Regions from separate parts of the Homo sapiens genome. Here region 1 is linked to region 2. Evidence: fine-mapped expression QTL. A gene starts in region 2. The other region holds a variant in brackets. All regions are shown on one strand. Distances are between the middles of the regions.

Region 1 (2,898 bases), 85 kb before region 2:
CTCTCCAGGACCCTGTCCACACATGCAGGAGGCAGGTGGGCCCCCATGCCCGCCCCTGTGGGCCTGGCAGGGGCTGTGTGTGGAGCCATGGTCTCCTCCCAGTGTGGGAGCGGGTGGGTGGGACCAAAGCGCTGGGTTTAAGATCTCTCCCCTGCGGGTCCAAAAAGGGCCTCAGCTGGGGGTAGGCCGAGTTGCCTGTGGGTTCCTGGCTGAATCTGGGCTCCGGAGCCCGTCGAAGTGTTCTGTCCGCCCCAGCCTGGCCAGCACTCACTTTCCCTTTCTGAACTCGGACAGAACTGATCCCACCCGTTCCCCAGAATGGGCTTCTGCCCTGAGCCAACAGGGGCCTGTTTTGAGGAGCTTGGTCTTTGCCATGAGTCTCGGGGACCCTTGTGACTGTTCCCAGGTTGACAGGAGCTGAGGGAGCCAGGAGAGCACCTCTGAGGAGTCTCAAATGGGGCTGTCCCTACGTGGCTGTGTGACTCTGCTTATGTTACCAAGCCTCCAAGCCTCTGTTTCCTCCTCTGAAACAAGAATGGTTGCTGTGGGCCCCAAGACGCTTCAGGGAACAGGCTGTCATCCCGCTTCTGAGTGAGGAAACCCATGATGGTGCTAGGGGATCCACAGGGAGGGCAGGGCGCTGGAGCAGGGGGATGTGACATCTGGAATCCCTTTCTGGCACTGTTGCCCTGAGACAAGCAGTATGCCCGTCTGCTTCCTGCCAGCCTGTCCCCTGGGGCCTCAGCACCACTGGGCCAGAGGCTTAGGACCCCCTCCTGGGAGCCCCCATTGCAGAGGGCAGGCTGGGGCCAGGGCCTGGGATGGCAAGTGCAGTGGTGAGAGACCCTGCAAAGGCCGCCAGGTCTGTGAGTGCCTGGACGGATGCAAAAGGGGCACCCGGCGAGGCAGGGCCTGCAAACATGGGCTTCCACAAGGTTTTCATCAGCCTTAAGATAAATACACTAATGACATTCAGGACATTGTTACAGCTCAGAAATGGAATCCATCACTGTCCTTTGCCCTTGATAATTAATTCCAGCATCAATGATCTGAGAGCTACTGGTAGTCATTTTTAAATCATCATCTCATAAAAAGAATTTTCTCAGCATAGGATGATGTTTCAAATTTAGTCTATAATCTAATTAATTGGCTCAAATTAGCTGCAAGGAACCATCGCTGTGACTGCAGTCTCGGGCTGTGAATTATAAATTGGTTCTGCTGTTGGCCTCTCAGATGTGTTCTTTATGGACATCTTACTGGGCTCAAGAATGAATTTTGGCTGGGATGGAACTGTCTCTACTTTGAAAATGGTCGGCTGTGTTATTGCAGCTGGTGTCTGTATTTGCCTGATTGGTGCTGCAAGCTGCCAGGCTGCCTTCAGCAGGCGCCGTACCCAGCAGCTCTTTCATGGGGGTCGACCTGTGGCCTGGCC[CG/C]GGGGAAATTCCAGGCCCTTTCCTGTACCCAGCAGGCAGGGGCTCGGGGCAGGGCTAGCTCCTGAAAACAGGTTTGGGAAATACCCCTAGAGATTTAGCAAGGCCAGTACCCCTGGGCGTGAGGGCGTGAGGTCTACCTGCCTGGCCCAGCTCCCAGCTCTCAAAAGCTCTCAAAGGTGAGATGAGGGACAGGTTTCTGCCAAATAAAAGCCCTCATGAGCCCGAGCTGAGCTCTCCCATGTGGGTCCTGCCCAGTCCCTGTCTCCACCTTAGTCAGGGTGTGCCTCGTCCCTGGCCTGGGAGCGCAGTGCTTACTTCTGCAGGTTGTCGGGGGTGCACACATCCTCATCGTACAGGCCGTTCGTGTCCAGCAGAGTACCTGGGGGGGACGAGGGGGTGACAGTGGTCGCTGCAGGCAGGGCCCAGGCAGCCTCTAGGGGGTGGCCTCTGTGGGTGGACACGGGCTTCTGCTAGCCAGGGGCAGCTGAATGGGGCCCTTCCCCAGCAGTGGGGTCTTGTGGGGTAGGTCCTGGTGATCTTTGAGGGAAGTCTGTGGGGAGCCCAGCTCCCATCCTCCTCCCCCAGCCCCAGCTCACCGATGGCCCACGGCTTCTCCTCACCAGGCCCCAGGCGGCAGGGGTCCCTGTAGTGGGTGAACAGGGAGTGTTGCTGCTCCAGCTTGTCGTCTGTGCGGGGAGGGAGGAAACGCTGAGGCACCAGGGGGCTTTGCTGTCCCACACGGCCTGTGCCCCTGCTTCCCATCAGTTACTCCCCATGTGCTGCCAGGCCCCCATCCCTTAGGCCACTGCCCCTGGGTGGGATCTCAGTCCCATTCAGGTGCCCCGTGCTTCATTTGTCGCTGCTTTTCTGTGTCCTTGAGAACACCTCCCCCAGCACACGCCCTGATCTTCAGCATTCCCTCTGAGGACAGTGACAGTGACCACGGTCCTCGGACAGAGGAAGGAAGGTCCCCACAAGGTCCATGTGGTCATCGGATCCACAGATCAGTTATTTACAGCAAGTGTTTGCTGTTTCACTGATGACGAGCTTGTAGTCTTTCACCCTAATGGTTTAAGGTGCAATTCCCAGGGTTCAGATCCCAGTGCAATCACTGCCTGGCTATGTGACCTTGGGCTGGTTCTCCAGCCTCTCTGAGTCTCAGCTTCCTCCACCACACCACGTGGAGACATGCAATGCTTCCCTCTCAGGGTTGTTAAGACACTTAAGTGAAACAGCGATAGAATGGCAGCTGGCTCGAAGCAAGAGCGCGGCGCCCCGTTGATGGGTGTTACTAGTGGACTCGTCCTTTGTCTGCTTCAGAGGCCCCCAGCCTTCCTTGTCAGAGGTTCGTTTTTAGGGCATCTCTGTCTCCAGCTTTCTAGGCAGAGCGTGGGCTCTTCCTGTTCTAGGATTTCTAGGGGGCAGAGAAATCAGTCTTGCTAAATACCCCGCCCACATGCTCTCG
Region 2 (2,898 bases):
GGGTGCGCCCTGCATCGGAGCGGAGCAGCCCCCAAAGATTCGCGGGCACGAGGTTGGGGGTAGCGTCTACCTGGAGCTCTTGAGTGCTTGAGGGGAGACCCGCCCCGTCCCGCTCTGTACATGCCCATCTGGGATTGGCCCCCAGCTGCGGTGCCAGAGGCTCGGTCCCCGGGGCGTGGTGGGCTAGGGCGGGTCGTCTCGACTTAGAGCCCCAGGCCTGGATCCAGGTAGGGAGGGCCTGGGAGATAAGGCCCAGGTGGGGAGAGGTGGGGAGGGGTCCCTCCTGTCCTCGTACATCCCCCTACACTACCTCTCACACCCAGGCCACCCAACCCTCGGCGCGGGCCCGAGCGCGGGGGATTCCGAGTGTCAGTGCTTTCCTCCACCCGCGACTCCGAGAAGGATGGGGAGGGGTCTCCCAGCGTTTCCCTGCCACATTCCAATTCCACCCTTCACCAGTAACCTAGGAGGGTCCAAGTGGGAGGGGTAAGAGTCCTCTGTCTCTTCCACATCCTCGATCCTCCTCTTTACAAAACCCTAGGGCCAAGGGAGGAGGGGGGAATAGGGAGGGGGGCGAGTGTGGAGGAAGGGGCCTGGGCAAGGGTCTTCCCTGCATCCCAAGCAGCCCTTCCTGAATACCCCTGGGAGGGTCTGGGCTAGGGGAGCGGTCCGCGATCTCATCCATCACCACCAGACTCCTTTGTAACCTCGAGCAGCCGAAGTGTTGCGGGGAGGGGTCCCCCTGCCTCGAGTCCCTTCATCCCACAACACCTCATCCTCCCGTCCTGAGTAATCCGAGCAGCCCCGTCGCCAGGCACAGCGGGAGGGAGGGTCCAAGCCTCCTCGCTCTCCCAGGAGAGATGGGGGGTGGGGGTGACCCCCAGCCCTCGCCCCTCATACCCAAGAGCCTTCTCCATGATAAAACGAAAACTAACCCAAGCTGCTCCGACCTCCGGCGCCCGGCCACGGGAGGCCCCTAGTCAGTCGGCGGCTGTCCGGGACCCGCGGTCCTGAGAGCAACGAGAACACGTCCCGTCAACTCCCCAGCCCCTCACGCCTCGGTTCGCCCGCTCCCCAAGAAAACAAAAGCGAATTCAGCAGCACTGACCTCTGACGGCGGGCGGGAGGGCGGTCAGCGCCCGGCAGCGCACCCCGCTCCTCCCGGCTCCTCACAGCCCGGGCTCCCGGCCGCAGATCTGGCGGCGGCCGCAGCGGCGGCGGCTCTCGCGGCTCTCGGGTCCGGAGCCTCCCTCAGACTCAGCACCTGGAGCGGCGAACAGCTCCGCGCTTCATTCCTCTGACCCCGCCTCCCTCGCGCCGCCGGAGCCAATGGTGACCCGGACCCCGCCCAGGAGTCTGCCCATTGGGGGCGTCCTCCCCTCTCCCTCCGGCCCCGCCCGCAGGTTCCTGGGTCTCTCCTTCAAGACCACATCCCCCAGAGACCGGCGGAGTTTCGCACAGCCTTCTGGGACTTATAGTTCTTTAAGGACGCGGAGTGGGCTCACGCCGCGGGTAGGCAAACAGAGCGGGACTGCATTTCCCAGAGTGCACTGAAGACACGGAGGCGCGGAGCAGGGCGGGAGGACCGTTTCCATAGCAAAGACGACCAGCCGAGGATGGCTGGCGGAGGCGTGGGGCAGGCCGCAGGACCCTCGAAGGATCGTGTGAGACCCCGGGCAGCCTCTTGGGAGGCCATTTCGAGGAGAAAACCTTGATTTCTGCCTCAGGACCCTGGGCCTCAGTTTTCCTATCTGAGAAGAAGGGCGAAGAGCTGTGCCCCCGACCACACCCGTCGGTGATGGGGCAAACCGAGGGCAAGCAGGTTTGGTTCCTGCCCAGCAAAGGTGAGGGAGGACGGAGGAGACTCTCCCACCGCATTCAGAACTTTATTCCTTTATTTTTGTCTCAATCTTGTCATAGAGGAGCGCTTCACTTTTGGTCATCCCTTGGGCCACCAGGGCCTTCCCGTCTCCGTCTTCCCATCGCAGGTCCTGGCCTCCTTCACACCACTCCAGGATACCGCAGCATCTCCCCCAGCGCAGCAGACGGAGGGCGCTTCACATGCCCCCGGACCTAAGCCCACTCTCCCCTTCAAGATCTGGACTCCACTTTTTTGCAACACTCTTAACTTCTTTGGAAGCTGGGAAGCCTCCTACTCCCTTGGGCCTCTCCACCCTGCCCTCAGCTAACTCGTCGGCAAGCCCCAGCCTAGACATTGCCTGTTTTGTGAAGACATCTAGATGCTGGGCTGTCTGTTGAGTGCCCCACCCTGTGTTTGAGCAGCACCCTCTACTTCCCCTGTTCTACTTGCATGTTTATGTGCTCGTCTTCCTCATTATAAGATCCACAGGGGAGGGGCCATGTCTATATTATTCATACTTACAGTCCAGTGTCTAGTATCTGGCACGTAGTAGGCACTCACTAGCTATTGAGATATAAATATAGATATTTGTTGAATTGAAAATGAATTGGGCCGGGCGTGGTGGCTCACGCCTGTAATCCCAGAACTTTGGGAGGCCGAGGCAGGTGGATCACTAGGTCAGGAGTTCGAGACAAGTCTGACCAAAATGGTGAAACCCAGTCTCTACTAAAAATACAAAAATTAGCTGGGCGTGGTGGCACGTGCCTGTAATCCCAGCTATTCAGGAGGCTGAGGCGGGAGAATCGCTTGAACCCCGGGAGGTGGAGGTTGCAGTGAGTCGAGATTGCACCACTACACTCCAGCCTGGACAACAGAGTGAGACCCTGTCTCAAAAAAAAAAAAAAAAAAAGAGAAAAAGAATAAAATTAAAAAAAAGAAAATAAAGGAACCTCATTCACATACACCTCCAAAACTCTGATTTCCTAAAGTTGGGCATTTCTCATTGCTGGAGGTGTTCAGTTAGAGGCATGCCGCCC

The links. PIP is the estimated chance that this variant, and not a neighbour inherited with it, causes the effect.
Region 1: its variant is the best candidate, but not a certain one, in a credible set for the expression of SMPD3 in whole blood (INTERVAL, PIP 0.88).

Annotation. Positions count from the first base shown.
Region 1 is chr16:68,361,748-68,364,645 of GRCh38, forward strand. SMPD3 (sphingomyelin phosphodiesterase 3) reads right to left here. Exons shown (of 9, transcript NM_018667.4): 6 at 2,030-2,119; 7 at 1,749-1,812; 8 at 1-12. Among named protein-coding and RNA genes, the nearest start is that of PRMT7, 52 kb to the left of the region's middle. RefSeq lists enhancers at 821-1,633, 1,634-2,445. The variant CG/C (reference allele first, on the strand shown) is at 1,433.
Region 2 is chr16:68,447,245-68,450,142 of GRCh38, forward strand. SMPD3 (sphingomyelin phosphodiesterase 3) reads right to left here and starts at 1,264. Exons shown (of 9, transcript NM_018667.4): 1 at 1,109-1,264. LOC124903705 (a long non-coding RNA gene) reads left to right here and starts at 1,596. Exons shown (of 2, transcript XR_007065097.1): 1 at 1,596-1,822; 2 at 1,921-2,898. RefSeq lists a silencer at 962-1,481 and an enhancer at 1,582-1,631.